3 separate regions of the Homo sapiens genome follow, and regions 1 and 2 are each linked to region 3. Evidence: fine-mapped expression QTL. A gene starts in region 3. Each other region holds a variant in brackets. All regions are shown on one strand. Distances are from middle to middle.

Region 1 (10,223 bases), 67 kb before region 3:
ATAAAACAAAAAATGTTTCAGTGAAACAGCAAGGCCACACGATGAGTTGCCCTGTCAGCTGTAGATGGTCCCGTCTCTAGGAGTTCCGAGAAGAATGGACGCTAGGCTACAGTGCTAGAGAAATCTCTGGGAGGAGACAGGACTGGAGTAGGCCTTAAAGAATGGGTTCTGGGTTTCCAGTTGATGAAAATGTTCTGGAATTAGATAGTGGTGTTGGTTGCACAACCTTGTAAATCTACTAAGAAAAAATCACTGAATTGTACACTTTGAAAGAGTGAATTTTATGGCATATGAATTATACAGTCGTGTCACTAAACGACAGGGTTACACTCAGAAAAATGCATCCTTTGGTGAATTTATCATTTGTGCAAACATCACAGAGTGTTCTTACACAAACCCAGGTGGCAGAGCCTACTATACACCTAGGGTACATGAATGGCCAATGTCATATATGGGGCCCATCATTGACTAAAACGCTGTTATGCAGCATATGACTGTATCTTAACTAAAAAAATGATGCAGTCAGAGGTAACTAAATAGAACAGTGTGGAAAAAACAAAGGTACACTTGAAAAGTGTAATAAGGAAAAAGGTAGCTTGGAAAGAAATGTCAAAGAGCTTTGAATGTCAGGAAAAGTTAACTAGAAATTATTTGTAAGACTGTAGAGTAAGCAAAGACTCACGGACAAAAGAGTGAACAATCAAATGCTTTGGAAAGAATGTTTCCCCACTGGAAAAACAAGCCTCAGGGAGACAGGCACCAGGTCCTGTTCACATGATGGGTATTTGAGTGTCAAATGCGTTTATCAACGAGTGACTATTTTCAGATTTCACTGGTTTTATGTGAAAAGGAGAGTAGGGAAGAACCATGACTGGGTCCATCATGAGGTTCACTGCAATAAATATCAGTCTGGGCCTATGCAGCATGGCCCCAAACTAGGAATATTTACATAGAGAGCTGAAAAGGTGAGAAGAAGAGATTCTGCTCTCCATCAATGATGTGAAATGTACTTAATAGGTGTAAATGCAAAAATGCTTCATAGTTTAGCTCTAGGTACATAAAACTAAGCCTCTGAACAGACTCCACTTGTGCAAAAGAAAGAGAAAAGGGAAGGAAAAAAGAAGAATAAGAGAAACACGAGGTAAGTACAAGAGAAAGAAGGGGTGAGTTGGCCACTGTCTCTTTAAGAAGCTCCTTGGAGATACATAACTGTAGAAAGCCTGGTGAATTCAACATTGATTGGGAATGAGGTAACCACAAACACCGCTGTCTCAAATGAAAAGGGATTCAAGATCTGACCCAGAAAACAAGCATCGTAACCACCAGATAAAATTTTAATGATAAACACAAGATGCTCTACATACAAGCAAGACTGAAGTCTCTCATGCTAAGCCATCAACGTAAGGTTTTCTTAGAAAGAGGAGCCACCAGGAGCCTCTCGACCCACAGATCAAGTTTCATCCTATCGATCCACAGAACGTGGCCATCGTGCTCTGTGCTGGCATAATCTGTAATGTTGAACAGACCCCGAGGGAACAGAGAGGCAGAGAGAGAAGGACTGGCATCTGGACTCGTAGGGGGCCTGCCCTTCGGGAGCTCCAGAGAAGAAATTCATAATTGGCTTTGAGAGTCAAGGCTCTCCTTTATTTTTAAGTTCTTTTGCGACTCTTTCAGTCCAGTCTCAGCCTTCTGTCCTCAAGTGTCTTCTGACACTCTAGGCAGAGATCCCTTTAAGCTGGAATGATCTAAGTACCTTCCGGAGTTCACACCAAACTGTAGCATCCGTGGGTAGAAAGGAGCTGCATATCAGTTGATCGCAGGCCCACATTTTAGCAACGAGCATCGATAACTTAATGGACAGAATCGCAAGTATCTGGACCATCAACCTTTCTAAAACTAGTTCTGCAGCACTCCCAAGAAGGGCTTTCACCTCTAAATCATAGCCAGTGAAACAGAAACTGAAGAAAAGCCTGCCTCCTGGGTACATCTTGTTTAAAGCAGAAATACTTTTTTTCATAGGCACTGCATGCCACAAAATATTAAAATAATCCGACTGTGTGGAATTTCTATTCAAAAGGTGCTCTTTAAGGAATGCTGCTTAAAGAAAGATTTTTCTTTAAAGAAAAGGACTCCTCTACTACTGAGTTTTAAAGTCCAAGGTTTGTTTTATTTTCCCATAGGCAGGAAGTTCCCTAAGGCGTCTCACTCCATAGCTGATCCAAACTAAGAAATTTAAGTGTTCTGCTTTCTACTTTATGGCATTAAGTATACAGTCTGAGGCTGTAGTTCATGACATCTTCCTAATCCAAAAAGAAAACTGATCTTATTGTAGAGTAAATAAATATATAAATGTACCTCTGTAACAAAGTAGGAAGACTTCATCAAAGTGGTTTTTGGGACAGAAGCTGAAGGAATTTACAGAAGCTAAAATTAAATGTGTTGGCCATGGAGAAAAAAAAAAACAATGTCAGGACAACTTAAGTAACAAATAGGTACTATATGGTGGGGAAGGAAGATTATGTGTGGCCAAAGCCCTTCTTCACAATAAGGGATTTAGAAAAAGAGAATGAGAACAGGGCCTGTCTGTGCCAACACTTATTATCTTTGCTTGACTTTTTTATGTCTTCATAAAATACAAACTGTTTGCCTTAATGAAAATCTCACATAACATGCCACAAGAGTGATTTAAAAGCTGGGAAAGACATATTGAGACAAATGGATCACAGATCCGCTCTACACCATGTGCTTCTCACCCTTGCTGCGCGCTCTCACGTCCTTGGGAACAGAATCACGGAGACTCTCCCTCTTCCACATGGGCTGTAACTGAGGGAGGTACATGCTCTCAAAGGAAGCTAAGGTCACTGGTACTCAGAGGGTGGTATGAGAAAAATGAAAGACCTTCAGATGCAGAGCACTCAGTGGAAACGGTTTGGCTTACCCCGCAATGACCACACCATCGTGAGAATGCACATCACACAAAACTGTGTCAGGAACATGCTCCAGCTCGCTCACGGCACCTTTGCGATTCTGCGTGAGGAAAAGGGGGATGCAGTTTAGACTGCTCTCGGGACAGCCCGAAAGCCAAGCATCGTGCTTTTTCACCTACTTTCCACAGCAATTCTCTACAGCATGGACAACAAGTGCATTCAAAGTTCCATGGGCATTCAAAAAGACAAAGATGATGACTAACATGCTAAGCTGTTAAGCATGGGCGAGTTACCATATATCCCAAAGGCACTGAACTCGAGGACACAGGACGTGTGAGACATTGCCCCATCCTCCAGGAGGTTACAGAATAGAAAGCAAATATGTGCTCACCAATAACTACCATCCACAATAGGCTGGCATGTATCTGCTGGGAGTGGCAAGTATCTAAAGAAACTTATAAAGTATGTGAAAAAGTTCCGTTCAGCAAAAAGAAAGTATTACATGATACCTTACCTGTTAATTCTTATAAGGACTCTCAGAATAAAATGCAAAATTATATACAAATAGATAAAGATCAGGATGAGGAAAAGGAGATGAGATGATACTATTTCTAACTGAGAGGCCAGAGGTTTCATGGAAATGGTATTTGAATGACAGTCTAGGCCAGGCACAGTGGCTCATGCCTGTAATCCCAGCACTTTGGGAGGCAGAGGCAGGAAGATCACTTGAGCTCAGAAGTTTTGAGACCAGCCTGTGCAACACAGGGAGACCCCATCTCTGCAAAAAATTTAAAAGACAGTCAGGTGTGGTGGCATGCACCTGTAGTCCCAACTATTTGAGAGGATGAGGCAGGAGGATCACTTGAGTCCAGGAACTTAAGGCTACAGTGAGTTATGATTGCAACACTGTACTTCAGCCTGGGCAAGAGAGTGAGAACCTATCTCTAAAAAAATAAAAAATTAAATTGAATTAAAATGAAGGGAATCTGAATGCACATAAAGTATTTACATGTGGGAGGTTGGGAAAAGTGAGATAGGCCACAAAGCAAGCATGAATAAAGGTATTCAAGAATACCATAATTTCAACTTTACCAGACTGGGACAAAGACTAGAAACAGTGTAAGTGCCCAGCACAGTTCTTAACATACAGCAAGTGTTCAATAAGTGGTAGCCATTATTATTATTATTTCTATTATTAGGAAAAAGATGACATCATTCCATTAAAATACACATTTATTAAGTACCTAGACTCTAGAAACTGAGCAAAGTAATTTGCATGATGGTCTTAACTTAATCCAAGGAATGAGTCTAAGGCTGAGAGATAAAACTAGACACATCCACGTGGAGCTGTCCTACAAGTGGAGATATGGGGAGGGAAGGCAAGGATCTGGGAGTCAGCTGTGTGAAGGCCGCAACCAAGGTTACAATAACAGAAAATCTCTTGTGAGGGAAAAAGTATTGAAAGAAAAATAGAGGGCCTAAGATGAAAACCTGCATTTATGCAAACACTAGGAAAAAAAACACTATGGCCACCACAATTAGTTTAGCAAATCATTTCCAGGTTGGCTCTGAAATGCAATTCCAGATAACTTCATGCATTTGCAGGCCATTCTCTTTGTGGAGGTACCTGAGAACCCTGGGGTCCCTTCTAGGGTCTCCCCAGACACTGACTTAAGAGGTACCAAACCAAAT[C/T]GCCTGCCTAACCCATCCTGAAGTCGAGCACGCACAGCACAGAACCCTGCATCTGTGTGCAGAGGCCTATGCTCTCCTACAGCCAACCTCGCCTGAGCACTGAGCGTGGACCAGGCTCTGCAGGAGTGGCAGACACTTGATGACGATCATCCTCACCATGACGCCATGAGCAGTGCCACTCCTAGCCCCTACTCTAGAGATGAGAAAATGGAGGCAGACAAAAGTAAAGCAACTTGCCCCAACACTGCCTTTCATTTCTTTCTTTCTTTTCTTTTTTTTTTTTTTTTTTGAGACAGTCTCGCTCTGTCGCCCAGGCTGGAGTGCAATGGCGCAATCTTGGCTCACTGCAACCTCCACCTCCAGGGTTCAGGCGATTCTCCAATCTCAGCCTCCCAGTAGCTGGGACTACAGGTGTGTGCCACCACGCCCGGCTAATTTTCGTATTTTTAGTAGAGATGGGGTTTCACCATATTGGCCATGGAACTCCTAACCTCAAGTGATCCATCCGCCTCAGCCTCCCAAAGTGCTGGGATTACAGGAGTGACCCACGGTGCCGGGCCGCCTTTCATGTTTTGATAAGGCTTTCTTTCATTCCAGAATTTTGGTAAGAATCCCACCATTACATTTAATGAAAGATACATCATTTAAAATTTCACTCCTAGAATTCTCCTTGTTAACACTGTCAGGAAATGGACCTTACACGCTCCAAATAGAAGTCTCCCTCATGTTTGGTTCAGCCTGCAGTCCGCTCCAGTTCACTCAATCAACAGCCATGTAGTGAGTACTTACCTAACACATGACTTCCTGTTCATTAGAAATAAATACTAAATAGACATTCAGCTAGATTGTATATAACTTGTAAAGTGTTACTAAGTGCCAAATGCTAGGTGATGGGTCTTTAAAATATCGTCACTTCTGCCACCTCCAGGCCCAACAAGGACATACCTGTCCTCTTCCCTTGCTTTCTCTATCACCAAAGAGGAAGCAAAAAACACAGCTGCTGCTTTTCTCTACCACGGTCTGACATCTTCGAATTCAAGCCTGGGGATGCCAAATATCTCCAACTCTCCTGCTTGTAAATCTCAAAAGTATCTCTCCTTTCTGGAGAGAAAGGACCCCGTTAACATTCAGCTCTCAAGCTTTCCTTAAATCGCAGCCCCTCCCACCAGGGTTAGACCCTCTGCTTTCTGACCCCTTGTTTATCTGGGCAGCTTTCTTTGTCATACCTTTCTGCCTGTGTGCATCACATGGACCTACCCAGGCACACGGGCAAGAGGGACTGGGGGCTCCCTCCAGACGAGTTTATTACCGTAGGTGGATGGAAAAGGGCACTGTGGGGCCAGCGTGACCTGTCTTAGTGGTGGTGTCTTAACAGCCTAAGAAAGGATAGCCACACTAACTCTCAGAACAGTGGTTCTCGACTGGGAGGGGATTTTGATTCCCAGGGGACATCCAGCAATGTCTAGGGGCATTTCTAGTTGTCATGACTTGGGGGAGGAAGAGAATGCTACTGGCGTCTAATGGGGAGAGGCCAGAGATACTGCTCAACAGCCTGCAATGCACAGGACAGCCCCGCACAAAACGAATTAGCTGGCCCCAAATGTCACTAGTGCTGGGGTTGAGAACCCCTGAACTAGAGAGACACTGCTCTTATTGACTTTGCTAGAAACCGTGTGAGGTTGCCCAGATCAAGCGTATTGGTCACTAATCAGGTTAGGAGGTGAGTAGGGACAGACAGGCACATAGGCAATTTGTCATTATCAGTAATGCACAAAAGCTTGTTAATCTCAAAGTCTATTAGGATTGACCTTTATGGGAGTAAAGAGAATGGTTCCATCCCTTCTCTACCATTGAATCTCCAGCCTCCCAGGTGAGAAAGAAACACTGCCACCACACTGCTGTCTCGTCATGCCTCAAACAGCTTTATGTAACACGGCTCTTGACAGTTATCTCCTATGGAAACACTTCACTGTGCAAATTCTTAGCTGTGATCTAATATTTCCGTAGAGACTTTGAAGTGATAAATGTTATGGAAGCACGCCAATAGGTTATGTGAGGGAAGAGAAGACAGTGCTTAGAGATGTTTAATCATCTCCCTCTTACATTTACTAGAAATGACATTTTCAGCTCCTCTTTTGTATGCAGGTAGTGCTTTTGCTTTCTGGGTCCCTCCAGAGAGTCGGTGAAAGTCAAAGGGGCTGCACAGAGCACTCCTCTGACCACCCTAACAATCCGAGAGGAAGTGGCTGGCAACCCAATCTCACCCTTCCTCTCCTGCAGAATAAGAGGATGTTCCCAAATCTTGAGGCTGAAAACAGAGGCAGATCATCTAATGGTGAACAAAATGGGCAACAAGTCACCAACAGCTGAAGGGGAGGCTCAGTGTACCCCTCTCCCTTCGCTGTTGGCAATTAATCTCAGGCTATGAGTGAAAGCTTGGATTCCCATGTCCTTGCAGGCTATTCTTTCACAGGTAATGATATTGGCCACTGCCCACCTTCCAGTTGGTTCGTAACATGTGTTCCTTGGCTCGGCACTCTTGGAAGATGAGCTTCCAGCAAGAATAGTCAGAGATGCTGCTATCCGGAAGGTGCCCTTCCTGCTGGCACAGCCTGTACCACAGCACCTCATCCTCTGCAATCACCTTCCACGTCTTGCTCACCTAAAACAGCAGAAGTGACACAAATGTCAAATTCTGCAATTAGAGAAGCCCCTTGTCATCCAAAAATCAATCAACACCTATATTATTGCCCTGGGTTTATGGCAGTATAAAATGTCTCATTAACAAAACACTATGAGGTGGAAAAAAAAATACAAGCAAATGTTTCCAGTTTTATCTTTCAAGATTTCAAAATTGTTGTACCACCATGTAATATCACATTTTAGACTACTTGGTTATATTGTAATCTAACAAATAAGAGAAGAAAATACACAAATACATAAAATGCAAAAAATATAAACTTTTACATGGTAATTAGCTATACAATCATACAGAGCTTTTCAGAATGGAATCTCTTTACTTTTGACAAAAAGCATTTGTATTTCCACCTTACAGAATTGAAGATTGATGGCCTCCAAAATCAAAGGCTGTCATAAAATTACCTATAACCCAAACATCTGGTCAGGTAAAAAATTCAAATTTAAATTGCATGTGAGAATTTAGATTTTAAACATATGTATATATTTAATTAACAGAAAACTCAAGCCATTATCCAGGACTGTAAGATTAGATCTAGAAAAATTAATGTTATGTCTGGCCTGACTTTCAAATCCCAACAGTATCCAGAGGAAATGGCCATTTTAACTATTAGCATTTTGTTTTCCAACACTAATTTAGGGGAACAAAAGGTTTACTTAATCACAGGATCATGTGCAAAGTTGGCCAGACTGCAAAAGATGGACTCTGTTGGCAGATGAGAAACTGATCGAGCAGATCAGCGTGATCCCGGTCTGCACAGCATTCTGGGAATGCAGGATCAAGTGCCTGATGCTTGCCATCCATCCAAAAGTTGAGTCTCACTTCTAATGAAGAGTGGTAGCGGGTAGGTTACAGTACCCTGTACTCTTTAACACTCCCTTAGGGCCACTTCAAGACTCAAAGACAGAGACGGAAAGAAGGAAAATGAGAGAAAGTAGGAGACCAGATTCTTACTGCACAAAGGGCCTCAGCTGATAAAGCACTGACAGAGAGTTAGTTTGCAGGATGGCAGATTAAAGACCTCCAAAGACCTGCTCCTCCATAACAGCAGTAAGAATTCCACCAAAAATGATCGATCAACTTTTTCGGAGTCTGGAAATTAACAAAAGGATTGCAACATTCTGAGGAACATTTATCCAAGAAAAGTGGCTAAATCTCAGTAAGAACAGTGACGTCTAAGTTGTTTTAATGTGTGCTAATTCTGTTTCCTCTTCCAGCTCCAGGATTGCCTTAAAAATCAACAACCTCGTGAAGATAGCAGCTGTAAAAACCGGCAGCCTAGCAGCCATTAGAGAGGCCAGACAAGTTTAGAGGTCCCCAAAAATCAAATCCCCAGAGAACTGTCACCATTTGACCTGGCTGGCAGCTTGCCAGAAAGCTCTATTCTCAAGGCTTGTCTTTATCTGAGCTGGCTGAGCACTGTCTCTGTCCTATCTCCAGGGCATTTACCCAAAATAGTAAGTGGCAACTGCTTAACTCTACAGCTGCCTGAGGAGGCACTGCTAGCTGGGGCTGTTAGAGGCTGACCAAAAAGCTTGAAAGAAAAAGCTTGGAAATGGGATGTCCATAGGAGGCTCTGAAAGGCTCCAATATATTCCTGGGAGTCTGGAATGCCACGTGAATGTATAGGGCTATGTGTGTGCCCAGGAAAGACCAGAGAAGGCCCTAACCTCTCCCCTCTGGCTGACCCTGAGGCTCTGCACAAGCAGGAAGTGAAGGCTAAGGCAGAGCTGTAAGCTGCTAGAATGGTGAAGCAGTACCCCAATATACAGAGAGCACCTCAGCAAAGGCTGGGAGACTTACTGGTTCAGTGGATTTAAGGAAATCTCCATTTGATAACTAGCTAACCACTAAGCTAGCCAAGCAGAGACTTCAGGAGGTGCACATGACAAATAATACAAATTAGAGAATTATTCCAGAAAAGTCACTAAACAAACAGCAGCAACAACAAAAATAACAATAGCAATAACAGCAAATTCTGAAGAGGGAGAAAGATTCTATTTCCAGAGTTTCCATTATTTAAAATGTCCAGTTTTTAACAAAATTACAAAAGCATGCAAAGAAACAAGGAAGCAGGGCCCATACACAGGGGAAAAGGCAGTCAACAGAAGCTAACCCTGAGAAAGTCCAGAAGCTGGACTTACTAAACAGAGACTTTAAATCAGCTATTTCAAATATGTTCAAAATACTAAAAGAAAGCATGTCTAAAGAAATAAAAGAAAGTAGAAGAACAATGTCTTACCATATAGAAGATAATGATAAAGAGATAGAAATTATCTGTTAAAAAACTAGGGAGGCTGAGGTGGGTAGATCACCAGGTCAGGAGATTCAGACCATCCTGGTTAACACGATGAAACCCCATCTCTACTAAAAATACAAAAAATTATCCAGGCATGGTGGCACGCACCTGTAGTCCCAGCTACTCAGGAGGCTGATGCAGGAAAATCATTTGAACCCGGGAGGCAGAGGTTGCAGTGAGCCGAGATCACACCACTGCACTCTGGCCTGGGCAACAGAGTGAGACCCCGTCTCAAAAAAAAAAAAAAAAAAAAAAAAATAGAAGCTCTGGAGTTAAAAAGTACAGGAACTGAAATAAAAAATTCCCTAAAGGCGCTCAACAACAAGTTTGAGCTGGAAGAAAAATCAGCAAATTTGGCCAGGCGCAGTGGCTCACGCCTGTAATCCCTGCACTTTGGGAAGCTGAGGCAGGTGGATCACGAGGTCAGAAGTTCAAGACCAGCCTGGCCAACATGGTGAAACCCCATCTCGACTAAAAATATAAAAAACTAGCTGGACATGGTGGCGTGCACCTGTAATCCCAGCTACTCGGGAGGCTGAGGCAGGAGAATCACTTGAACCCAGGAGGCAGAGGTGGCAGTGAGCCAAGATCACGCCATTGCACTCCA
Region 2 (10,223 bases), 32 kb after region 3:
ATTCCAGGACCCACTTTATTTACCTCTCTTTCTTCTAATCCCGAGTCTCAGCAGCCCGGATGTCTTCCTAACACTCTGCACATCATTCTTCTCTTCCGAAGCTGATGCACCTATCATATCTGTGTCCAAAGCTTGCCTTTCTTATTCCCTCACATTTATTATTCTCAAGATATTTTACATGAAGAGGTCCATTTCTAAGGACTTCGTGGAACTTGAGTCAGTGAATCATAAAATAATAAGGGCAGGATACTGTGAACCTGATACTCGATTAACCCTACTTACAACAAATGAGTTGCAGAACCAAGATACATAAAAGAGAGTGGCATTGTTCTTTTCCAACGGGGACTCCTGGCTGCTTTCGCACTGGTATAGGGGAATTCATGTAGCCTGTGTTGGAAACACTCCTCATCAGACACTGTTTTCCCTAGGACAGAAGTTAAATCCCCCCACCGAGAAGAAAACCTCAGATGGGACGTTCCCCCAGAGGGTAGGGCATGCACTAATAAAATCCTAAACTAAACCATCCCATCTGCCCCTGTGTGTCCCCCACATGTTACATTCTTTACAGTGTTAACAGGCATGGCTCACTCTTTGCAGTGTTAGAGAATTTTGTTTTATTGTTTTGGTGGCATGGGCATAATTGGAGAAACCATTGGGGTATTCACTAGTAACCTACATTGTTAGTTTCCTTGGTTCCAGCAGGTAATACACTGGGTTCCGTCACCCTGGAGATGGCTACAGGGAGGCTGAGTGACTTCCCAAAGTAATAAAGAGTTTGGAATCAGAATTCCAGGTCTGACTCCCAGCAGACTGTTCTATTTCCTTACACACCTGCACTTTCATCAATCTTCTCCAGCTCCAATTTCTTGTGCCCCTTCAACAGCATCTGCAGGCAGGATGATCTTTCCGATAAAAACCAGTTGCAGAAGTTCCTGTTGCTTCCCTTTGGTTTTTCCTCAGGGTAGGGAGAACAGAGCAGCTGCATTCACATGGCCCCATTTCCCTCTGCTTCCCCTTCCCACTTGATTATTCAGGCAAGTGGGATTGTAACATCATGGCCATCGCCATAGTAACGGAGCTTGAAAGATGCTACACTGCCCTGGAACAGACGTCTTGCTGGGTACCAGGAGAGAGCCAGGGATGCCAAGCCAAGGGGAAAGTCCTGGTTTGGTGGCACACAGGGGCAAATGTCCTGAATCTACGGCGGGGCAGGGGGAAGGGGACATGTTAATACTGGCTGACAGCGAGGTGGCTACAAAGCTCCTCCATTTCTCCTGGGGCTTGCATGGTAATCTGCCCACTAGCCACACAGATTGCTTTCTCTGTAATGCCATTGGCGCCAGCCTGTTGTGCTGAGGTTGACAATAAGAGAACAGACTTGGGAGGAGGAATAGGGCAGGCAAGATTCTGGTGGCTTCTGCGTGGTCACCTGTGCCATCTCATGCCAGATTTCAGAGCAGGGAACATTTCAGAGGTGGAGAAGTGGCTCTGTCATAGAGATCACAGAAGCACAGATGGTTACGGTGCTCCATGCCACTACCCTGGTTGGTGGAAACATCCATAACATAGGTTGTCCTGTTTGCTCTGAAGGCTACCAGAGGGGATGGCAATGTCCACAGGAGCTGCTGACAGGCCTGAGACTTAAGTGAGGGAGATGACAGAATAGGAAGAGGAGAAAGACATAAAGACAGGAGACCAAGGGGTAACCACATCTGGGCCAAAGCTGACCTTTCTTTCTTTCCTTCCTTCCTTCCTTCCTCCCTCCCTCCCTTCTTTCTTTCTTTTTTTTTTTAGACAGAGTCTCACTCACTCTGTCACCCAGGTTGGAGTGCTGTGGTGCAATCTCGGCTCACTGCAACTTTCACCTCCCGAGTTCAAGCAGTTCTCCCTGCCTTAGCCTCCTGAGTAGCTGGGATTACAGGCACCCGCCACCGCGCCCGGCTAATTTTTGTATTTTTTAGTAAAGAGGGGGTTTTGCCATGTTGGCCAGGCTAGTCTTGAACTCTTGACCTCAGGTGACCCGCCTGCTTCAGCCTCCCAAAATGCTGGCACTACAGGCATGGGCCACCACACCCGGCCTCTCGTGTGCTTTTAGAAGACCGTGTCTGCTGGGCCCCATGCCTGGAATGTCTGAGGGGCAGAGCAGTGCGGAGGTTAAGAGTGCGGGCTCTGCTGGGGATAGCGGAGTGTGCCTGTAGTTGCAGCTGCTTGGGAGGCTGAGGAGGGAGGATCACTTGAGCCCAGGAGTTTGAATCTAGCCTGGACAACCTGGATTTTTATTAGAAACCTCATCTCTAATAAATTTATTTTTTTTTAGATGTGGGTTCTGAAACTGTACCAGGCCTCTGTTGGAAACTTGGCCCGCCCATGCTGGCTGGGTGACCCTGGGAAAGTTACCGCACCAAGCTCTGTGCCCAAGTTTCCTCATCTATAAAACAGGGGACCCAACAGTACCTCCCCCATCACAGGGCTGTTGTGAGGATGACAGCACGTAATCCAAGCAGGATGCTGCATGCTTTGCCTGCTGCGCATGAAGTATTTGGGACCTTAAGTCATTACAGGTATATGGTGGGGCCCAACAACTGTATTTTGAAAATACTTTGGGCCAGGTGTGGTGGCTCATGCCTGTAATCCCAGCACTCTGGGAGGCTGAGGCAGGTGGATCACTTGAGGTCAGGAGTTTGAGGCCAGCCTGGCCAACGTGGTGAAACCCCATCTCTACTAAAAATACAAAAAAAAAATTAGCTGGGCATGGTGGCACGCATCTGTTGTCCCAACTACTCGGGAGGCTGAGGCAGGAGAATCACTTGAACCCGGGAGGCGGAGGTTGCAGTGAGCCAAGATCGTGCTATTGCACTCCAGCCTGGGCAACAGAGCAAGACTCTGTCTCACAACAACAAAAAAAAAAAAAAAAAGAAAAGAAAAGAAAAAATACTTCACAGGGCTCACAGGGATTCTAATCTGCAGGCCTGGGCTATCTGGGAGGCAGTGATCTCTAGGCTCCTCCCCAGCCTGCACCATCAAGTCCTAGGTACTAGGTACTAAGTTAAAATAACCAGCAGGTGGGCTGGGCACAGGGGCTCATACCTGTAATTCCAGCACTCAGCACTTTGCGAGGCCAGGACAGGAGGATTGCTTGAGCCCAGGAGTTTGAGAACACCCTGGACAACATAATAAGTCCTCGCCTCTACTAAAAATTAAAAAAAAAAAAAAATTAGCCAGGCCTGGTGGCACACACCTGTAGTCCCAGCTACTTGGGAGGCTGAGGCGGGAGGATGGCTTGGGCCCAGGAGTTCAAGGTTGCAGTGAGCTGTGATTGTGCCAACTGCACTCCAGCCTGGGTGAAGACCCAGACCCTGTCTCAAAAAAAAAAAAAAAAAAAAAAAAGTGAGCCTGGGCACGGTGGCTCATGCCTGTAATCCCAGCACTTCGTGAGGCTGAGGCGAGCTGATCATTTGAGGTCAAGAGTTGGAGACCAGCCTGGCCAACATGGCAAAACCCTGTCTCTACTAAAAAATACAAAAATTAGCCAAGTGTGTTGGTGGGTGCCTGTAATCCCAGCTACTCGGGAGGCTGAGGCAGGAGAATCGCTTGAACCCAGGAGGTGGAGGTTGCAGCGAGCCGAGATTGTGCCACTGCACTCCAGCCTGGGTGATAGAGCGAGACCTTGTTTTAAAAAAAAAAAAAAAAGGAAGGAAGGAAGGAAGGAGGGAGGGAGGGAAACAGAGAGAGAGAGAAAGAAAAGAAAAGAAAAAAGAAAGAGAAAATAACCAACAAGTGGGAACTTCATGTATTGCCAGGTCCTTGACTTGGAGTGGAGAAGGAAGATGCATCTAGAAGGGCATCAAGTCTGAGTTAGGAAGACGTCCCCTTTTGCAGGGGAAGGAGGCACGCACTATACCACAGAACGAGAGAGGAAGATGAAGGTCAGAAGGACAAGACAGGGGCGGGACTTTGGGGTCAGAGGTGGTGGAGGGCAAGAGGCAGGATGTAAGTGCTTGAGGCCTGTTTCTCAGGAAGCCCCCGCAGGGCTGGGTCCGGGCATGCTGACCCTTGGCGTCCTTCTGGGTGTCCTCAGTGTTCGGTCCTAGTACACCTGGAAGTGTGCGGACGTGGCGCCGTCCTTCCAGCAGCGCAGGGTGTCCACGGCGACCGAGCGGCAGAGCGGGCAGGTGCGCTCACGGTCCAGCCACAGGCAGAGGCACTCCTCACAGAACACGTGCTGCGGGGACAGCAATCAGCAGGCACCAGGACTCTTTACTGAGCGTCTGCCTCGGTCTCGGGAGCAGGAGAAGGGGCAGCGGACTAGACAGACAACCCCTGCCTTCGGGGCGCCTGCACTCGCGTTGGGGAGACAATGCGACTCCAAAATACTGAGTTATCAGTAGGAAGCACCAAGATGAAACAGCAGGGGAGGGGACAGGTGTGGTGGCTCAGGACTGTAATCCCAGCACTTTGGGAGGCCGAGATGGGCGGATCACCTGAGGCAGGAGTTTGAGACCACCCTGGCCAACATGGTGAAAACCAGTCTCTACTAAAAAATACAAAAATTAGCCGGGCGTGGTGGTGGGCGCCTGTAGTCCCAGCTACTCGGGAGGCTGAGGCAAGAGAATCGTTTGAACCCGGAGGCAGAGGTTGCAGTGAGCTGAGTTTGTGCCACTGCACTCCAGCCTAGGTGACAGAGCAAGAATCTGTCTAAAAACAAAAAAACAAAAAACAAACAAACAAAAAGCAGGAGGGAGAAGGAACAGGGAGGGCTTGGGCGGGTTGGGACGTTAAGGACAACTTTACGGAGATACTGACATTTGGGTAAAACTTGCAGGACAGTGAGGAGTGAGCCCTGATGAGATCTTGGGGAAAAGCACTTCTAGCAGCAACAGCAATGTGCAAAGGCCCTGAGGCTGGACTGTGTTTGATGTGCGGGAGGAACAGGAAGGAGAGGATAGCTGGGCTGGGGTTGT[T/C]GGGGTGGATGGGAGAGGGAGATGAGGTCACAGAAGTGATGGAGGGTGAGGGGTGCATATGGTGTAGGTACTTGTGGGCCATTGTGAGGTCTTTGGCTCTTATTCTGAGAGAAGTAAGGGGCCCATGGTAGGGCTTGGAGCAGAGGAGTGACCTGATATGATTTGCAGTTTAAAGCGATCCCTCCGCCTTCTAGGTTGAGAATAGAACACAAGGGTCAAGAGGAAAGGCAGGTAACTAGTGCTACGATAAACAGATACATGCACGCATACGTTCACTGCAGCACTATTCACAATAGCAAAGACATGGAATCAACCCAAATGCTTATCAATGATAGACTGGATAGAGAAAATGTGGTACATATACACCATGGAATACTATGCAGCCATAAAAAGGAACGAGATCATGTCCTTTGCAGGGACATGGGTGGAGCTGGAAGCCATTATCCTCAGCAAACTAACACAGGAACAGAAAACCAAACACCACATGTTCTCACTCATAAATCAGAGCTGAACAATGAGAACACATGGATACAGGGAGGGGAACAACATACTGGGGCCTGTTGCGGGGGCTGGGGGAGGGAGAACATCAGGATAAATTGCTAATGCATGTGGGGCTTAATACCTAGGTGATGGGTTGATAGGTGCAGCAAACCACCATGGCACACGTTTACCTATGTAACAAACCTGTATATCCTGCACATGCATCCTGGAACTTAAAATTAAATTAAATTTTTTAAAAAAGAGAGAGGGCCAGGCGCGGTGGCTCACACCTGTAATCCCAGCAGTTTGGGAGGCTGAGGTGGGCGGATCACCCGAGGTCAGGAGTTTGAGACCAGCCTGACCAACATGGAGAAACCCCATCTCTACTAAAAATACAAAATTAGCCAGGCGTGGTGGTACATGCCTGTAATCCCAGCTACTCGGGAAGCTGAGGCAGGAGAATCACTTGAACCCTGGAGGCAGAGGTTGCGGTGAGCTGAGATCGTGCCATTGTGTTCCAGCCTGGGCAACGAGAGCAAAACTCTGCCTCAAAAAAAAAAAAGAGAGAGAGAGAGAAAGGCAGGGAGATTGGAAAGACCAATGGGTTCCACCGTTCTCTGGCTGTATAACTTGGACAAGTAATGCAACCTGTCTGTGCCTCAGTTCCCCCATCTGTAAAATGGGGATAGAACCCCCTCATTGGAAGATTAATTAACATGTTAAAAGTACTTAGCTATGACAACCAAATGCAGCACATGAGTCTTGATTGGTCCCAGGGGTGGCAAAAAAAATGCCAGCTATAAAGGGCACTTTGAAGGCAACTGGAGACATCTGAATATGTACCATATATTAAATAATATGTCACATTAATTTAAAATTTCCTGGGTGGCCAGGCACAGTGGCTTACACCTGTAATGCTAGCACTTTGGTAGGCTGAGGCGGGGGGATCACTGAGGTCAGGAGTTTCAGACCAGCCTGGCCAACATGGTGAAATCCCGTCTCTACTAAAAATACAAAAATTAGCCAGGCATGGTGGCACACGCCTATAGTCCCAGCTACTTGGAAGGCTAAGGCAGGAGAATCGTTTGAACCCAGGGGGCAGAGGTTGCAGTGAGCCAAGATCGCGCCACTGCACTCCAGCCTGGGCAACAGAGTGAGCTAGATTCCATCTCAAAAAAAAAAAAAAAAAAAAATCCTGGGCATGCTAGTGGAATTGTGATTATCTGAGAGTATGTCCTTGTTCCTGGGAGATGCACACTGAAGTATTTAGGGATGAAGAATCTAAATGTCTACCACTTACTCTTAACTGGTTTAGGGAAAAAAAAATTGATGTCAAAAAAAGGGCAAATGTAAAATGTTAATGATCAGTAAATCTGGATGAAGAATAGAAGAGTTTCATGCAACTTTCCTGCAGGTTTGAAATTTTTCAAAATGAAACATTTGAGGAAATAATAATAAAAAAATCTAAACAAAATGTTTTTTTAAAAGCAAAACCACAAAAAAGAAACTGGGCACAGTGGCTCATGCCTATAACCCCAGCACTTTGGGAGGCGAAGGCAGGAGGATGGCTCGAGGCCAGGAGTTTGAGACCAGCCTGGGCAACATGGCGAGACTTCCTCCACCCCCATGCCCCATATGTCTCTACAAAAAAAAAAAATTAGCTGGGCATGGTGGCATGTGCCGTCCCAGCTACTTGGGAGGCTGAAGTGGTGGGAGGATTGCTTGAGCCCAGGAGGTTGAGGCTGTATGAGCTATGATCATGCCACTTCACTCCAGCCTGGGAGACAGAGTGAGACCTTGTCTAAAAAAATAACAATAATATAAAAAAGAAGGCACTTGGAATAATGACTGGCAAATAGTAAGTGCTCTATAACTATTAGCTATTATGATAGTAATAATGATTATTATCTTATGTGTTTACAGTTTATTATCTGTCTCTCCATACCAGGCTGTAAGCTTCTTGTAAACCCCTTCATTCCTAGCATGGTGTACAGTGGGTGCCTAATTGTAGACAGTGCTCTGAAGGAGATTTCCATGGTATTATGGAGGTGTGTGACAGAGGGACCAGTTTGATCCAAGGGGTAGTCAAGGAAGGTTTCCTGGAGGTGGGGACACTTGAGTCGAAGCCTGAAGAACATTTGGCAGTTAACTGGGCAGAAGAGAGGGGATGGGATAGAGATAGAACATTCCAGGCTGAAGGAAGTCTCCTGTGCAAAGCTCCTGAGATAGGAAGATGTTTGAGGCACTTGAAGATAGCTGATGTGGCTGTAGTTGGGGGTGCAGGGGAGAGAGGGATTGGGGAAAGGAGAGAAGTCCACACAGAGCCGCGAAGACCATACTGGATTCTCATCATGGTCTGGAGGGCAGGACCCAGGGGTCAGCAAGCCCTGCAGCTTCTACAGATTCCCACTATGGCACCCATTACCCTCTATGATGGCCCGTCTCCCGTCCAGCCCCATCCTCACACCCTGGAGTAACTGATGTCATTGACGTGCCACATGACCTTCAACCCATGGCTTATTCACAGCCTTCCAACCAACTTTAGTATCACTCTGGGATGCCCTTTCTCCATCTTGACCAGCTGGGTGCATGCCCAGTTCTTTTGGAAGACTCAGCCAAGCAATCATGTCTCCCCTGTTTTATGATGTTGCCCCGATTCCATCCTGTTACTGTCTCCTGCAAATGTAAGTACTGATCGCGTCTTCTCTCCTATGCCATTCTTCCTGGTGAAAACCCCTCTCAAAGCATTGCATGAGGAATTATTTGCAAATTCATCTGATTGTTCACTAGATTAAGAGCTCTCTCTCTCTCTCTCTCTCTATATATATATATATATTTTTTTTTTTTTTTTGAAACCGGGTCTTGCTCTGTCATCCAGGCTTGAGTGCAGTGGTGCGATCACAGCTCACAGCAGCCTTGATCTCCTGGGCTTGAGTGACCCTCCTGCTTCAATCTCCCAAGTAGCTACAACTATAGGCACGTGCCACCATGCCTGGCTAATTTTTTAATTTTTTTGTGGAAATGGAGTCTCACTTTGTTGCCCAGGCTGGTCTCAAACTCCTGGCTTCATGTGATCCTCCCACCTTGGCCTCTCAAAGTGCTGGGATTATAGGTGTGAGCCACCATGCCCAGCCACTGGATTGAGAGCTTTCTGAGGGCAGAACCTGGTTTTATGCTGAGTACGGTTCTTGCTCAGATGCTCAGTAAATATCTATTGACCAACCAAATGGGACTTAACTATGCTACCCTGGACAAAAGAGGTACTTACATAGGAGAATGCAACACAACCCCTGTTCACATAGACTTGGTTAAGTGAATGGGAAATAGCCATGAAATTTAGCAGTTTTTTCACTCATTCATTCAACACATTCACTGAGGCTCTCACACTTCTAATTTAATAGTTCTCAGATATTCTGGTGCTAAGACCCCTTTATATTTTTTAAAAACACTGAAGACCTCAAAGAGCTTTTGTCTATGTGGTTTAAATTTGTCTATATTTACAAATTTAGAAATATTAGAAATATTTAGAAATAGAAACGGAGACATATTTAAAACATAATGGCCAGGCACGGTAGCTCACGCCTGTAATCCCAACACTTTGGGAGGCCAAGGTGGGCAGATCACGAGGTCAGGAGTTGAAGACCAGCCTGGCCAACATGGCGAAAGCCTGTCTCCACTAAAAATACACAAATCAGCTGGGCATGGTGGCGTGTGCCTGTAATCCCAGCTACTCGGGAGGCTGAGGCAGGAGAATTGCTTGAACCGTGACCTGGGAGGTGGAGGTTGCAGTGAGCTAAGATCGTGCCACTACATTCCAGCCTGGGCTACAGGGTGAGACTCTGTCTGAAAAACAAAATGAAACAAAACAAAAAAAAAACCCATAATACACAAGCACATATTCATGAGCCACCAGAGTGATGACCTCCTCGCAGGCGATGCAGCCTCTGGAAAACTCCACTGTATACTCATGAAAGAACCAGAGTGAAAAGGCCAATAATGTCTTAGTATTATTATATAAATGGTTTTGACCTCACAGACCCCCTGAAAGGAACCCCCAGGGGTACCCTGGCCACACTTTGGGAACCACTGTTCTAAATGCTTAGTCAACATCTGCCCTGCCCTCTAGGTGGTAAACGCCATGAGGGCAGCCATGTTGTTATCGTACTCCTACTGTCCAGCCCTGAGCTGGTACAGAGTAGGGGCTCTGTCAATGGAGAGGACAAATGAATGGGAATGCAGATGACAAATGACCAAACAGGAAAGTCTGGCGATACTAGGGTGATGAAGGACTGGTCCCTGCCCTCCGGGAGCTCACAATCCCTTCCTCAGAGAAATGGGAGGACAGAATCTGGTGTCAAATGAAAAGGTTCAAAAAACCAGGTTTACCCCAGGGCCCAGCTGAGGAGTTCACGGCTGTGGACTGCCTCCAGCATGTGGAGAAAGGGATGAACGTCTACAGAGGAAGGGGGAGGAAGAAGGAGCCCTTTCTCAGCTGGGAAGGATAGGATCGGGTGGATTGATGGGCAGTGGGGAAGGCAGGTGGCCCTGGATTGTTTTTTTGTTTGTTTGTTTCTTGGGGTTTTTTTTTTTTTTTTTTTTTTTGAGACACAGTCACACTCTATCACCTGGGCTGGAGTGCAGTGGTGTGATTAAGGCTCACTGCAGCCTCGACCTTTTGGGGCTCGAGTGATCCTCCCACCTCAGCCTCCTGAGTAGCTCGACTACAGGCAGGCACCATGGCACCCAGCTAATTTTTGTATTTTTTGTAGAGTTGGGGTCTTG
Region 3 (10,223 bases):
AAATGTCCTCACATGTGCCCCACAGTAAAAGCAGCCAGAGTCTGGTGAAATATCTGCTTCTAGCTTCCTGTTTAGGATGTTGTTCCTCTCTATATTTGTTTGCTAGGGGTGCCATAGCAACATGCCACAGTCTCAGGGGCTTAAACAACAAAAATTTATTTTCTCACAGTTCTAGAGGCTGGAAGTTCAAGTTCAATGAGTTGACAGGGTTGGTTCCTTTTTTTTTTTTTTTTTTTGAGACTGGGCCTCACTCCTCATTCTGTCACCCAGGATGGAACACAATGGCATGATCTCGGCTCACTGCAGCCTTGATTTCCTGGGCTCAAGCAATCCTTCCACCTCAGCCGCCTGAGTAGCTGGGAACCACAGGAGCACACCACCATGCCAGCTATTTTTTTTTTTTTGTAGAGACAGGGTTTCACCATGTTGCCCAGGCTAGTCTTGAACTCCTGTGCTCAAGCAATCTACCCGCCTGGGTCTCCCAAAGTGCTGGGATTACAGGTGTGAGCCACCAGGCCCGGGCAGGGTTAGTTCCTTCTGAGGGCTGTGAAGGAAAGACCTGTTCTAGGTTCTCTCCTTGGCTGGTAGATGCCTTCTTCCTCTGTCTTCACATGGTCTTCCTTCTGTGTGTCTGTGTCTGTGTCCTAATTTCCTCTTCTTATGAGGACACCAGTCATAATGGATTCAGGTCCATCCTAATGACCTCATTTTAACTTAATTACTTAAAGATGCTATCTCCAAATATAGCCACATTTTGAAGTTCCAGGGGTTATCAATTTGGGGTGGAGCGGTGGCAGGGGGGACAGAATTCATCCCACTACAGCCTCCCTCCCTCTTCCCAAGTCCCCAGTAACCATTTGTCACCCTAATTCTAAAGGGCTCAAACTCTGGGGCGTGGCAGGTGTGTGACTTTGGATGAGTTACTTAACCCCTCTGCCTTGGTTTATGCATACATAACGTTGGGCTAACAATAGTATCTGTCTCATAGGGTTATTAGGGGAATTAAAGGAGTTATGTGTCTAGAGAACTTAGAACAGCACCTGGCACAGAGCGAGCACTATATAAGTGCTTATTAAGTTAAACATTGAAATCGACAACTCATTTTTACTAAACTGTTAGGAGAAGCTTGGCACGGTGGTGCACGCCTCTAGTTCTAGCCACTCGAGAGGCTGCGGTGGGAGGATTACTTGAGCCCAGGAGTTCAAGACCAGCCTAGGCAACATAGCAAGACCCAAAAAAATCTCTAAAAGTTTTTTTAAAATTAGCCAGGTGTGGTGGTGTGTGTCTGTGGTCCCAGCTACTCCAGAGCTGAGGTGGGAGGATTGCTTGAGCCCAGGAGCTGGAGGTTGCAGTGAGTTATGATCTCATCACTGCACTCCAACCTGGGCCACAGAGAGAAACACCATTTAAAAAAAAAATTTTTTTTAATAAAAATTAAGACAATTTAAAAAGTGCTAGGAGACATGTTACCCTCCCAAAGAATTTGCTTTCTTTGAGCAATGCTTAATATCAGCAATGGAATCACCAATTCACAATAGGGGAACTATATATATTTGAGGGTGTGGATCCCCAACATTCTTCAAAGTACACTATTTGACAACTACATGATCCACTCTAAAATATTAACAGTAGTCAACATTTATTAAATGCTAGTGATGGGACCGGGCATGGTGGCTCATGCCTGTAATCCCAGCACTTTGGGAAGCCAAGGCAGGAGGATCACTGAAGGTTAGGAGTTCGAGACGAGCGTGGCCGACATGGCAAAACCCCATTTCTACTAAAAATACAAAAATAAGCTGGGCGTGGTGGCGGGTGTCTGTACTCCCAGCTACTGGGGAGGCCAAGGCGGGAGAATCGCTTGAACCTGGAGGTGGAGGTTGCTGTGAGCCAAGATCGTGCCACTGCACTCCAGCCTGGTGACAGAGCAAGACTCTGTCTAAAAAACAAACAAACAAACAAACAAAAAACAAAAAACCTAATGATGGGCCAGGAGGCACTGTGCTAAGTAAGGGCTTTCCTGGTATTTAGGCTGGGAGGTGGGTACTATTATTATTCCCACTTTACAGTTGAGAGAATGGAGGCTCCAAAAAGCCACCTCTCAAGGCCATGCTCCCCAGTTAGTAAGTGGTCCAATAGCACAGGATAACTCATGTGTGCAAATTAAGGACTGCCAGACTTAAGAGTGTCAGGGAGAGAGAGGTCCTTCCTTCTCTCCCACTTTTTCATCACCCCCTTCTCTTCCCCCTCTGCTGAACGTTGCATCCCCACGGCCAAGATTGCACCCCCTCTTCTACAGACAACATCCAAGCTGCTGGGACCCGACCCAGCGCCACCTTGCGAGCCCAGCATTTCGAGGGGCAGGCTTCCAAACAGGGTAATAATCGTCCCATTAAAATTAATGTCCATGAAGTGAGCCGTTAAAAGCGTGCAGATTAAAAATGGGGGGAGGGAATTGTTCAATTTAAATCCAAAGGGCTTTTTAAATAGACACTGTGTCTTCATTCTTGGAACGCTACACCCGGGCAATGGATCAGGTCCCCTCTGTAAAGACTAGGGGGATTAAGGAGGTGAGTCCCAGGAGAATGGGAAGTGGTTCTGGCGAGAAGCAAAGGGAACCAAGGTCTATCCAGGGCCCACTGCGTGCCAGGTGCTTGGCACACATTTCTCTCATTTAATCTCTGCCCCAATCCTGGGATGGAGGTATTATTATTCCCAGATTACAGGGGGCAGTATAAAACCGTGGTTAAGAGCTTAGAGCCTGCGGCATACTGCCCTAGTTCAGATGACGGTTTCATTCTTAGCTACTCTGTGAGCTAGGGCAAGAACCCTTACCTACCTGTGCCTCAGCTTCCTCATCTTTGAAATATTATAGTAATTGCATGTAGAATTGTTGGGAGATTTACCTTTAGGCAGCAGAGGCAAGGGCGCCCAAAGCCCACAGGTGCCAGACATAGAAGATGCGCAGTAGGTCTTGGCCATTATGAAGCCTAGAATAATTGGAGCTGGGTGAGGGAAAAGGCCACCAGAATCACACAGTGTTGTGGGCTTTGAGCCCTGACTTTGTTGTCATTTCACCACGCTGTGGGCCAAAAGGGACATTTCTCCTCCTGATCAATTCAGACCAAAACTAAGTTCACAGACTCGAAGAATCTTGGTTATACTCTGCGGTGGGAAGGCAAGAACGGAAGCTCCCTCAGCAGGTTCCAGACTCCCAACTTGGAGCCATCTCTGGACTCATCCCGATGGTCTGAATCCCAAAGTTGTCTGAATCCCAGTCGATTTAAGATCACAGGTTTCATTCTCCCCCACAGAATCCTGACAGCCGCCCAGCCCATCTGAACCTTCACCGTTTGTGACAACTGCAGACGCTCCAGTCTGGAGGTGCACAGGAGTGGCTGTCGGATTGGAAAAGGGGGAATTAAAGTCCCCCGCGCCCCTCCTCTCGCCGACCCCTTAGGGTCTCCACTGCGCATTAAATCGGGGTCATCGCAGAAAACTGTAACGCCATCAGGAAAATAATGTTCACAAAGAAAGCAGACAAGAAGTTTCCCTTTAGAAAGCCCCTTGCGAGGGTCTTTTGGGTGCGGGTGCCGGGCAGCGAGAATGCCTCCGTCCGCGCCCCACGCGAGCTCAGGTGGGCCCATCCAGCCTCCCACCGGGCGCTGGGGGCACTTTAGGGTCAGGTTTCTAGCCAGGCGCTGGGGGCACGTTAGGGTCAGGCTGAAAGCCTACAGGTGCCAAGTCAGACCTGAAACGAGGCAAGTTGGGTGTAATCTGACCCTTCCATAAGATTTTGAATCCACCCACCTCCCCCAAACAAAACAACAGCCTCGGAATATTTTTGAATAATGCAGCCGAATTCAGCATCAGCTTCATCCAAAACGGCAAACAAGCCTTTTTCCCTCGCCAAATCGGAACTCGAGCTGAATTCAGGAAAAGGGGAAGGAGAACAACCTTCCCTCGCGCTCCGCGCCTCCGCGGGGGTCCCCCGAGACCCCCAAAGCCCAGGACCTCCGCTGCGGGGAGCCTTCTCGCGCCGCCCCGCGCCGCGCTCCCCGTCTCCCAAACCTCGCGCTCCCTAGCTGCCGGCGCCGCTAGGGTTAAAAGTTACCTCTCGGTTTCTTCTGCCTGCAGCCCCCCCCCCAACCCCCGGGGGCCGGATGATGTAACCCCCCTCCCCGCCCCCCTCCACCATGTGACACTTTAATTAATAATAGCGCCGTCAGCACAACAAACGCACAACACAAGGAGAAACTTGGTGTCCAGGGGAGGCCCCCGGCGGCTGGAGCGCGGCGGCAGCGGGCGCAGAGGCCGGAGGGAGAGGAGGCGAGGGGCGGCCCGAGCGCGGGGCGGGAGCGAGGCCAGCGGTCATGTGCCCGTGCCCCCTGCACCGCGGCCGCGGCCCCCCGGCCGTGTGCGCCTGCAGCGCGGGTCGCCTGGGGCTGCGCTCGTCCGCCGCGCAGCTCACCGCCGCCCGGCTCAAGGCGCTAGGCGACGAGCTGCACCAGCGCACCATGTGGCGGCGCCGCGCGCGGAGCCGGAGGGCGCCGGCGCCCGGCGCGCTCCCCACCTACTGGCCTTGGCTGTGCGCGGCCGCGCAGGTGGCGGCGCTGGCGGCCTGGCTGCTCGGCAGGCGGAACTTGTAGGAACGCGGGGCTTCTTGGTGGGGCCGGAGCCGAGACCCAGCCGGAGCGAGCAACAGGTACGCGAGCGAGCGAGCGAGAGCCGGGGCGCGGCAGCTGGGCACTGGAGACGCTGGGCTGGCCCGGGAGCGGGAGAGTGGCAAGTTTGGCTTTCTTCTTTTCCCTTCTCCTTCTTCCTCCGTTCTCTTCTCTTGCAAGCATCTCCACCTCTCCTCTTCTACCCAGTCCCCAGTCTTCCCTTCCAAGTGTAAGGTCCACCGTTTCTGCCCCCATCTCTGCGAGTCCTTAAGCGCATCTTGCTACTCACTTATAGCTCAGTGGCTTGCGGAGGACTTCAGCCTCCATAATCCCCACCAGCCCCACAAATAAACACACAATGCAAGTAAAAAGTGTGCTTGCTATGGGAATGTAGTTGTAAGCCACGCCAAATACTTAAAATCTATCGCACTTCCAAGAAAGGTCCCCGGTCCCGTTCCAATCCTCTTGCCGTTCCTGAGTCGCCCCCGTCTCCATCACCTTTGCTCCCAACCTCTTGTCCCTAAGTGTCACTTCTCCAATCTCTGATCCCCATTATCTGGCACCCCAAGCGCATCTCGAGACTTCCTCCCCCTCCAGGTTTCTGGCTGGCCCAATCTTTCTTCCCAAGCTCCGCGCATTTGCAATTTTCCTCTGCCCTGCCAACTTCGCTCCTTCTCGAGTGAGGTGTCCTGTTTAAGGAGTTTGGCTTCCTTCTCCCCAGACGGTTGTAGCTGCTACGGGAAGGAGACGCCCTCGGAGTGGGCTGGAATAGGGGGCTTTCAGGGAAACTCCAATGGGAAGCCTTAAGGAAGGAACATTTATTGAGCTCCTTCGGGGTGCTGGGCACTGTTTAGGGAGGTCATGTGTTGAGAACTTAGGACAGGAAGTGGGTACTGAGCACCTAGTGTGGTTGGTATCAGTGGGAGGAAGGTACTAGGCTCTTGGGGTGGGGGGATCATTGTGCCCTAGCTGTGCGCCTGGCACTGTGCTAGGCGCTTTGAGGAAGCACACAGCGTAAGCATCGTCTTACTACTCTGGATCCTGGAGTAGCGAGGAGCGCTGCAGAGAATGAGGGAGAGAGAATCAGGCTGAGCCCACCATAGATGGGTCTAGGGCCGGAAGGTGAAGCTCGAAGGTGACATAGCCAGCCGCCCTTAGGTCCCCGCCCCCGAGCCCCGCCGCGCGCCGCAGACACCCTGGGAAGTTGGAGCGGCGCCTGAAGGCGAGGCCCGAGCGTCTGCGCCCGCGGGGAAAGGCGGCAGCCGGAGCGTGGGGGGTGGCAGCGCCCAGGGAGCTGCGGGGGTGCGCGGGGTGTGAGCCGGGACCGCAGGCGACAGATGTCGCGTGGGCCCGCGCAGCCCGGGCGCTGGCGAAGAGAAATGCGCGCTTCGGGGCGCTCTCTGCCCGGCTCCCGGGCGCCGGGGGTCCCATCCACTTCTCCCTACCTTCTCTCTCTCCTGTTGGAGAGGCCAGGGGCTCCCGCGACTGAAAGGGGCCAGGCTGAGGCTGCCCAATCCCAGGGACAGGAAGAACATTTTGGATGGATCGCGGGGTGCAGAAAAAGGAAGTTGAGCGACAGACGCGAAGCCCAAAGCGTGGAATTTGGGAAGAGGCAGAAAAAAAGTGGGCGAAGAGGAAGAGAAAAAACAAGCGACGAGATGGGGAGGGACAAGAAGTTTGGGGAGGATAGAGAAAAAGAGAAACTGCCTGGAAAACAAGTTGCAAGACAATTGAAAAGTGAATGAGAAGGAAAGAGAGGAAGGTAGTAAAATCAAATAGAACTGTGGAGAGAGGGCTGGGACACGGCTTTCTCTGGTTCTGTCGTCCAGGAGATTGGAAACGCTCTCCCCTTCCGGCACCAGGCGTGCGGGATGTCGGGTGCCCCTCCCGGGAGGCCGAGGACTCCGGGCCGGAGCCTGACTGTGTGTTCCTGTTTGCCGGTGTGTGAGTGTCGGGGTGGGAATGCTCCCGGGGCCTGGAAGGGGAGGCTGCGGGCGGGGCGGGCAGATTGCGCCGCTCTGCGCCGGAGCGCAGGGGAGGAGTTGGGTAACTGGGGCCTGCGCTGCAGGGGAGGGCGGCGGCCAGGAGTTTCGCTGTTTTGAGTCGGTGTTGGGGGGCAGCAGCAGGTTATTGTCTCTGTGGAGTTTATTTCCCCCGCCCCGCCCTCGCCTTCTACCCCAGAGTTACTTCCGTGCTGCGCCCTGACTCGGAGACACCCTCTTCCCACACCTCTGGGTTCTTCTCCTACCTGCCTTGTCCCGCCCGGGCGTCCCCTGCAGCCACACCCTCCAGGGTTCTGCAGCCTCTGGCGCCCTGACCTCAGGATGCCCCGCTCGGCTTCCCAGCAGCACCGCCCCTCATACCCTCGGGACACCCGTAGAATTGCTCACCACCCGCCTTCCTGCGCTCCCAGGCCGGGTTCTCAGTGCTCGGGCTCCCTGCACTGGCCCTGATCAAGTTCTCTCCCTGCAGCCTACATCTGACCTCAGAATACCAGCCGCTCCGGCCTTTCTTGTGCTTTTGATTTAATTTGGGGAAACTCATTTTTTCCCAGCTCTGGTAAGTTAAGTAAAGGGGAAAGAAAAATCACCGGAGGAAGACAGTCTGTTGCGTTCTATGCTGGATATGGGGTGCTCTCCACCTTCCCTACCCTAAAAGAAAAAGGGGAATGTTCACAGCTGTACCTTAGGTGTTTGAGGGAGGCCTGTGCCAGCCATATAGGGTGGGAACTACCACTTTCAATTCCCATAGGTTTAAAGGGTGTGCTCCGCTATATGCAGAATCAATATTTTCAACATACAGGCCAGGCAGGTTGGCTCACGCCTGTAATTCCAGCACTTTGGGAGGCCAAGGCAGGTGGATCACCTGAGGTCAGGAGTTTGAGACCAGCATGGCCAACATGGTGAAACCCCATCTCTACTAAAAATACAAAAATTAGCTGAGCGTGGTGGTGCACACCTGTAATCCCAGCTACTCGGGAGGCTGAGGCAGGAGAATCGCTTGAACCTGGGAGGCGGAGGTTACAGTCAGCCAAGAAGAGCTGAGATCACACCACTGCACTCCAGCCTGGGCGACAGAGCGAGACTCCATCTCAATAATAATTTAAAACATATATGTGTATATACACATACATATATCCAGCATACTTGTTTTGAGTCTCTACTGCGAACCAGCAATACTTTTCTCAGAAGTCATCCTTTAAAAAAATAACAAACAGAAACAAAAACCCAAGACTAAGTTTTCCCATATGTAAAATGGGGGCAAAAAATGGGGGCCCACCAGCCAGACTTAGTGCATAGGCACGTTATTAAGGGGGTTAAATGAATTCATACACGGAAAGCTCTAGAACAGTGGATATACATGTGAGCCATCATGATTATTATTGTGCATTTACTATCATTCTTTCCCAAGGTAGTCAACATTTTACCATTATTATTGCTGGCCATTCCACACCACTCCTACCTGCCCTCCCGGGAAGTCAGTGCCAGAAGGGTCAGGAGAGAATAATGGTTAAGAGACTCTTAAGTGTCCAGCCATTTGCTGACAGCGTGACCTTGAGAAAGAACCATTACCTCTGCACCTTTATCTGTAAACTGGAGCTGTATCCTTCCAGGGTTATTGGGAGAATGATAAGAGAACATTCATTTAAAGTGTCCAGTGCAGGCCGGGCCAGTGGTTCAGTCCTGTAATCCCAGTTCTTTGGGAGGCCAAGGTGGGCGGATCACTTGAGCCCAGGAGTTCAAGACCAGCCTGGGCAACATGGTGAAACCTTGTCTGTACCAAAAAAAAAAAAAAAAAATTAGCTGGGCATGGTGGTGTGCACCTGTAGTCTCAGGTACTCAGGAGGCTGAGGTGGGAGGATCACTTGAGTCCCAGAGGCAGAGGTTGCAGTAAGCTGAGATCGCACTATTGCACTCCAGCCTAGGCGACAAAGTGAGACTCTTGTCTCAAAAAAGTCCAGTGCAGTGTCTGTCTCTTAACTTCACTCAACAGAGGATGTCATGAAATGGTCAGTGTCATTCCTTTTAATTCAAAGGGGAAGCCGAGGCAGAGAGCATCCACCTAAGTGATCCCCAGTGGAACTGCAGCTTCTGTCTTTGAGGGCACACAGCGCCCCCCACCCCATGACTTGCGGGGGAAGAGGAGATAGGGGCAGTAAGCAGACCGGGTTGGTGCACAGTGAATTCCTGTACAAGTGAAATTCCCTTTCTTCCAGAGCCCCAGGGGAGGCTCCTCTGAGGCTGGGGAGGCCTGGAGGAGGATGGGTATGATTTAACCAGTCAATACTCAAAGATACAGGAGAGAGGGAACAAAAGACGCTTTATGGTGAGTGCTGGCTGGCGGAGGCGTGGGAGGGAGGGAGGGAGAAGCGTGCCTGGGGAGGGGGCAGGGAGGGAGAGAGAATGGAGCCGAGGAATCTGCCTGGGAGTCGGGGCCAGGGCTGGGTAGAATCCTGCCTTGGGAGCAGGGGAAGGGGAGAGAGGGGGACTCCGCAGGCCCATAAGGCGACGTGGTCAGTGGCAAGGAAGATAATGGGCCAGCGGGAGCCTGCTTTAATGAATTAATGACAGCCTGGCCCACCAGCCAGACATGCTAACTGGTTCTTGGCAGGTACTTTGGGGATTAAGTGGTTAAACCTGGAGGCGCATCCCGCAGGCCTCCCTCCCAGCTCGCAGCACCCCTGCCAGAATTACTTTTAGAGCTTGAAAGCTTGGCCTTCTGTTTGGCGAGGGAGCCCGAGGAGGACAGCTGTTGGGGAGGAACCCCCCGGGAAGGGGCCAGATGTGCAGAACCAGGCAGCCTTCCTGCCACATGGTCTCTGTCTGGAGTCATCCGCTCGCATAGTGAGAGGCCAGAGTACAAGTGACTGAGCTGTGGATGGAAAAGAGCCACACCCGGGGATAATTAAATATACCCCCAGATGTGGGCTGGCTGGATTTGGCAATCATAACTCTAGAGTTTTTGAAAAGTCAGCCTTTTAGACAGGCAGATAACGAGAGGTGGGGAGGGGGCTTCCGTTTCTTGGTAGTCCTCACTAGTGTCCCTGTGATAGGATTTCACGGGAATAGAAAGCTAACCCACAGTGTCCCTAGTCCCTGGCAACTTGCTTGTCTCATAGTAGGTGTACAATAACTATGTGCTGTGTTAAATGAATCAGAAACTATGCAACATCAGCCGGGTATGCTGGCTCACACCTGTAATCCCAGCATTTTGAGAGGCTGAGGCGGGTGGATCACTTGAGGTCAGGAGTTCGAGACCTGCCTGGCCAATGTGGTGAAACCCCATCTCCACTAAAAATACAAAAATTAGCCAGGCATGATGGTGTGTGCCTGTAGTCCCAGCTACTTGGGAGGCTGAGGCAGGAGAATTGCATGAACCCAGGAGGCGGAGGTTGCAGTGAGCCGAGATCGCGCCACTGTACTCTAGCCTGGGCGACAGAATGAGTGAGACTCTGTTACAAAAAAATAAAAAATAAAAAAAGAAACTATGCAACATAGTCACTATTGTTTCCCAAATTCAGGTTCTTCCACTTATACAACTGCTAATTATTGAGTACCTTCT

What was found. PIP is the estimated chance that this variant, and not a neighbour inherited with it, causes the effect.
Region 1: its variant is the best candidate, but not a certain one, in a credible set for the expression of HRK in whole blood (TOPMed, PIP 0.51).
Region 2: its variant is the best candidate, but not a certain one, in a credible set for the expression of HRK in whole blood (INTERVAL, PIP 0.64).

The regions. Positions count from the first base shown.
Region 1 is chr12:116,942,422-116,952,644 of GRCh38, reverse strand. FBXW8 (F-box and WD repeat domain containing 8) reads right to left here. Exons shown (of 11, transcript NM_153348.3): 3 at 7,117-7,281; 4 at 2,939-3,027. Among named protein-coding and RNA genes, the nearest start is that of FBXW8, 37 kb to the right of the region's middle. The variant C/T (reference allele first, on the strand shown) is at 4,620.
Region 2 is chr12:116,843,313-116,853,535 of GRCh38, reverse strand. It overlaps RNFT2 (ring finger protein, transmembrane 2), which reads right to left. Exons shown (of 11, transcript NM_001382266.1): 11 at 1-4,222. The coding sequence ends at 4,088. Among named protein-coding and RNA genes, the nearest start is that of HRK, 33 kb to the left of the region's middle. The variant T/C (reference allele first, on the strand shown) is at 4,962.
Region 3 is chr12:116,875,455-116,885,677 of GRCh38, reverse strand. HRK (harakiri, BCL2 interacting protein) reads left to right here and starts at 4,237. Exons shown (of 2, transcript NM_003806.4): 1 at 4,237-4,702. The coding sequence starts at 4,371. The coding sequence ends at 4,646. RefSeq lists an enhancer at 3,083-4,044 and silencers at 4,550-4,629, 5,508-5,708.